2 separate regions of the Homo sapiens genome follow, and region 2 is linked to region 1. Evidence: fine-mapped expression QTL. Tissue or cell type: lung. Region 1 holds a variant in brackets; the other region holds the start of a gene. All regions are shown on one strand. Distances are between the middles of the regions.

Evidence for each region. PIP is the estimated chance that this variant, and not a neighbour inherited with it, causes the effect. A credible set is the group of variants that fine-mapping cannot tell apart.
Region 2: CMBL starts here. The variant in region 1 is the best candidate, but not a certain one, in a credible set for the expression of CMBL in lung (TOPMed, PIP 0.60).

Annotation. Positions count from the first base shown.
Region 1 is chr5:10,385,840-10,388,752 of GRCh38, forward strand. It overlaps MARCHF6 (membrane associated ring-CH-type finger 6), which reads left to right. Exons shown (of 26, transcript NM_005885.4): 5 at 1,155-1,227. Among named protein-coding and RNA genes, the nearest start is that of MIR10397, 15 kb to the right of the region's middle. The variant C/T (reference allele first, on the strand shown) is at 1,566.
Region 2 is chr5:10,306,165-10,309,077 of GRCh38, forward strand. CMBL (carboxymethylenebutenolidase homolog) reads right to left here and starts at 1,738. Exons shown (of 6, transcript NM_138809.4): 1 at 1,461-1,738. RefSeq lists an enhancer at 1,016-1,516.

The DNA of each region.
Region 1 (2,913 bases):
ATAGGCAAAAGTAAGGACTTACAAGATTTAACAGTTATTAATCACAAGCTTGATTTCTGTTCTAATTTGTTTATATACAGATACACACAATTTAAATTACATCACACGATACATATTCTGTAACTTTTCTCTAGCTTAGCATCGTATCCTGGTGGTCTTTCCATGTACGTGAGTGTTGTGCTGTCTTATTTTTTTTTTTTTAGCGATACACAGCACTCTGTAGTAAGAAGGCCTGTTGCACATGAATCCATTTACCTATCTAAACATTTGGTTTGTCAGTTTTACATTGTTACAAGCATACTTGTCTGAGTATTTTATAAACATGTAAGTAATTTTTATTACAGAAAATCTTTTCCTACCTTTCCATTTTGACTTGGTTTTGAAAACAGCCATTGAAGTCACTGAAAATCTGATTGGAAGTCTCCGATACAAGGCTATATAGGGAATGCTTAAGCTAATACACAAATACTGGTTTGAAAGAAAGCCTCAGGTTTTTATTCTTGTGCCCCATTTTCAAATCTGTGGTCTGTTATCTCATTCTGTCTAGAATTCTGCTTTCCTGACTAAAAGACTTTCTGCCTTGATAGCAGTTCGTTCACCCATACTTTGTCTTTCTCTAAATGGCCAGAATTTAGAATAATTATATTCTGTATTTTAGAGGACCTGTGAATCTGTGCTTTTAAAATATTGGTTGTCAGGTTGCCATTTATGGCATTGCAGTACATACTCTACTGAAAAATTCTCTTAATTTCAAAGACTTATACCTCCAAAACTGAAACCTTTTATTGTCATGAGCAGACTTAATGAATTTTGGAATTCTAGAATTTAAAAAATTCTTTATATTATAATTTTGGAGATCTTTACTTTAGATTTTTCTTTTCAAACATCTAAGCTCATTCAATAAAAAAAAGCAACTAAACCTAGAGAGAATCTAAGTGCTAAACATGATTGTGTAACATTTACTCTTCATTGTCACTATATTTGTGCTTGACTGTGTTTTTAAAAATTTAATATTTTGAGACTTAGGCTTGTAAAGACTAAATGTTTATTTCAGTGGCATTTGTGGCGTTCCACTTTACCTCTGCTTTCTTGAGCAGCTATGTGAATTCATGATGCGAGTTGTGACTGTGTGCCATCATGCTCTTTTTCGGTAGGCCGCATCTACAAGTGCTTGTTTACTGGCTCCGTGAGCTCACTACTGACGCTGCCATTAGATATGCTGTCAACGTGAGTATTGAACCTCTGTGACGAATGTTGCATGATGTAGATGATGCTTGCTTTTTTCCTTGCATATTTATTTTATTATAATTTGTAAATTCTTTTGTTTTGAGAACAATAATTTATGTCTATTACACTAACAGTTATAGCTGCAGTAGAAGTAGCTGATAAATGTAAATGACACTTCTTTTAAAACATACCTGTTTTATGGGACTGTTTTGTAATGATGGGATGACTTTTCTTTCTTTCTTTTTTTTTTTTTTGAGATGGAGTCTTGTTCTGTTGTCCAGGCTGGAGTATAATGGTGCGATCTCGGCTCACTGCAACCTCCGCCTCCTGAGTTCAAG[C/T]GATTCTCTTGCCTCAGCCTCCAGAGTAGCTGGGATTACAGGCACTCGCCAGCATGCCTGGCTAATTTTTGTATTTTTAGTAGAGACAGGGTTTCACCATGTTGGTCACTCTGGTCTCGAACTCCTGACCTCAGGTGATCCACCCGCTTCGGGCTCCCAAAGTGCTGGGATTACAGGCGTGAGCCACCGCGCCCGTCCGGGATGACTTTTTAAATAGGCTGTCACGCAGTTTGAGATACATACTACTGTCTTATGTTCACAAAAGTTTTTTTGTTTTGTTTTTTTAAATGGAGCCTCGCTCTATTACCTGGGGTAGGGTGCAGTGGTGTGATCTCTGCTCACTGCAACTTCTGCCTTCTGGGTCTCCTACTTCAGCCTCCTGAATAGCTGGGATTACAAGCATGTGGCAGCAAGCCAGGCTAATATTTTGTATTTTTAGTAGAGATGGGGTTTCACCATGTTAGCCAGGCTCGTCTCAAACTCCTAACCTCAAGTAATCTGCCTGCCTCGGCCTCTCAAAGTGCTGGGGTTACAGGCATGAGTCACTGTGCTTGCCCAAGAGTTCGTTTTAACATGTGTTTTTAACATACACATTTGAACTCAAATTTATTTTTTAAATGTTTTCCATGATTATTAGAATATAAATGCTAAGAACTTGCCTGTAGTTACTTTACTATATCTTGATATTAAGCATTGTTGCTTGCCTTATATTGGCAGGCTTCTTTTTCCCTCTCACCTGATAGGCTTGAGGGTCACCTGAATTGCTTTCATTAGACTACTCATTGACTCCAGAGGACCACTGGAAGCCTAGTGGGGCTAGTCAAAATAAATTATAAACATGGCTTGGTTTTAGCTGTCTTTTACAGTTTGAAAAATTGAGCCAGTTTTTCTGATAGCAGTTGTGACCAAACTACTTTTTTTCTGAGTAATGTTTTACACTCTCTATAGAATTTTTTTTCTGTGAAATTTTACTTTAAATTTCCTTAATGTCTTACCAGTTTCTATGTATTCTGTAGCTCAGTAATTGAGGTCATGTCTAGGTGCACTGTATCAGTTATCTATTGCTGCAAAACAAACTGTCCCAAACCTTAGTGGCTTAAAACAGCTACCATTTTATTTGCTTATAATTCTGGGGTCAGCAGTTTGGGCTGGGCTCAGCTGAGCTTTTCATCTATTGGGCTTGCCTAGGTCACTCAGCTGTTTTACTGGGACTTAATGATCTAAGATGGTTTGTCTGAGATGCCTTGGTTCTTCTCTTTGTGGCCTCTTATCTTCTAAAAGGCTAGTAGGGCTTCTTTACATGGTAGTCTCAGGGCAGCATTCTAAAAGGGCAAGAGAAGAAGCTTGC
Region 2 (2,913 bases), 80 kb before region 1:
AGGGTGTGGTTTTCCTGATTTCACGCCCTAAGGATTCAAATAACTCACAAGTCAGACTTCCAGGCACAACGCAGTTCTCCAACAGAAATAGAGAAAACAGATTTTGACAAGCAAAAGGGACTGGTGCAGTTGGGATTATAACAAGCAGGGAAGTCTAGGAATACATCTCCAGCCTCCTGGGAGAGCCTGAGCCCGGAGGGGGCAGAGAGGAGGAGGAGGGAGGTCTGGGGGAAGAGAGGTCTGCAAAGTAGGGGAAGGGAAGGCCAGGAGGGAGGGAGGCGCAGCGGGGAGGAGAGGAGAGAAGGGAGGAATACATTTCTGGAAGCTTTAGAAATTTAGAAATAGAAACCACGTGGAAGTGCATCCAGGGCTCAGGGTTACAGAGGACCCCAAGACAACACAGGAAAGTGGGGTCTAATGGGAAAGGCAGGAGGTTTCTCCTTTACTGCTTAAACATTGTAGGAACTTGCATGGCAAGTGATTTTCAATCTTGCAGCAGGGAAGGCAGGGCCAGTACTTATCCTTAGATGATTCTACAAACATCAAACTTCTCCAAATATTTATTTTTCAGCAGCCATGCTTGTATTTTCCAAGTGTCTATGGTCGAGATAGCATGAATTAGGAAGCTACCTGGATGAGCCCACAATGGCCCTCTTAGACATGCCAACGACGCCCCTGCAGAATCTGCTTTTTCTCTGGCTGTTCCTAGGCCTGGATAGGGTTCCCAGGCCTGGACAGGATTCCCCGGATACCGGCGAGGCTCATTACTAACCACTTTATTTTAAATGGGCTTTGAAAACAACAGGTGGCATCTTCCATCAGCAAGTGGACATAAATCTCAGTGCCCAGTGTTTCCAAGGCCTGCCCGACCCACATGGCTGTGGGGTGTAAACTGTCCAGTCGTTCCTGGCACACCTACCCAGCATTTAGGATGTCCCACTCTTAGATCCATAGACCCAGCACCTCTCTTCTTAATACCCACCCTAAAGAAAAGCTGTCGAATGTGGATGCTGATTTAGTTGCAAATATGCTCAGTTTTTTAATAGTTTTATATTAGTAAAAACGCTACAACCAGAATGTCTCACTGCAGGAAGAGAGTTACAAGGAGTATTTAACGGCATGGTGGAAAGGCTCCTCCGTGCTAAATGGCCAAAACGAACGCAAGTTTGCATACGGTGTGATTTCCACTATGTCTTTAAAATGCATGGCGAAACACCTACAGGAAAATACCAAAATGTAAACAGCGGCTGCTTCGGACGCATGGGATCGTGGAGGCTGCTGTTCTGCAAGGACAACGTATCACTTTTATGAAAGTCAGCTTCTGAAAACGGACTATGGGAAGTTCCTTACCCGTGCACGCGGCAAAGACCTTCTTTGCCATAGTCAGAACACACGCGGGAGTTCAGAGGAGCGGGGCCCGGGCTTGTGTGGGCTTGTGTGCCCCGGGGACGCGCACGTACCTTGTCCCGCGGCCTGAGACTGCGCTGCACCGCGCGGAGGCCGAACCCAGAGGAGGCGGCGTGGCGCCGGGCGGGGACGCGAGAGGGACGTGGACGCGGCGACCGAGGACGCGGGGATCCTGCGGGACCAGTGGCTCCAGTCGTAGCCTCCTGGGAGAGCCAAGCCCGGAGGGGGCGGAGAGGTGGAGGAGGGAGGCCTGGGGGAAGAGAAATCTGCAAAGTCGGGGAAGGGAAGGAAGGCCAGGAGGGAGGGAGGCGCAGTGGGGAGGAGACGAGAGAAGGGAGGGAGGGAAGTGTGAGGGGAGGGGAAGAAGTGGGGTGGTCGGAGGGTGGGGTAGGGAGGAAGAGGGAGGGAGAGATGGGAGAGGCTCCAAGATAAAGAAAGGTGCAGGGAGAGGGGGTGGGAGGGAGGGAACCGCAGAGAGGAAGGGAGAAGAGAATCAGGCAGCCTTGAGGGAGGAGGCAGGGAGGCCAGGAGAAGGAAGACAGCCAGCCTTCTGTGAGATTTACGTGCGTGCCTGGCTTCCAAGACAAGTAACTTCTGTTGTAAATACAAATTAAGCTATTTTTTGTTTATTTTATTTTATTTTATTTTATTTTATTTTATTTTATTTTAGAGATAGGGTCTTATTCTGTCACCCAGGCTGGAGTGCAGTGACACAATCATAGATCACTGGAGCCTCGAACTCCTGGCTTCAAGTGATCCTCCCCTTCAGCCTCCCAAAGTGCTGGGATTACAGGTGTGAGCCACCATGCCCAGCCACAATTTTTTTTTTTTTTTTTTTTTTTTTTGAGATGGAGTCTAACCCTGTTGCCGAGGCTGGAGTGCAGTGGCACGATCTCAACCTCAACCTCACTGCAACCTCCACCTCCCGGATTCAAGTGATTCTCCTGCCTCAGCTTCCCCAGTAGCTGGGATTATAGGCACGCGCCACCACGCCCAGCTAATTTTTGTGTTTTCAATAGAGACGGAGTTTTACCGTGTTGGCCAGGCTGGTCTCGAACTCCTGACCTCAAGTGTTCCACCTGCTTCGGCCTCCCAAACTGCCGAGATTACAGGCGTGAGCCGCCGCACCCGGCCCCAGCCCCAAATTAAGCCTTTTTTTAAAAAAGAAATTAATACACGTTTCATACTTGCCTCCTTCGTATTTTCTCTGGTCATCTGCCCAAGGTTATGACAACAGCTTCAACTTGGCTGCAGAAGCACACCCCTGTGGCTCACTCAAACTGGAAACATACAGGAAAAGGGAATTCTAGGAATATAGCTCAGCCTGGACAAATGGGCACATTAAAAAGCCATTGCACCGTGGTGGCCGCACTTCCTGCCATCCCCACTGCAAAGGTGTTGTTATGGACTGAATGTTTGTGTCCCCTCCAAAATTTGTACGTTGAAATCCTAACCACCCCGCCCATGGTGGTATTTGGAGGCGGGGCCTTTGGGAGATGCTTAGGT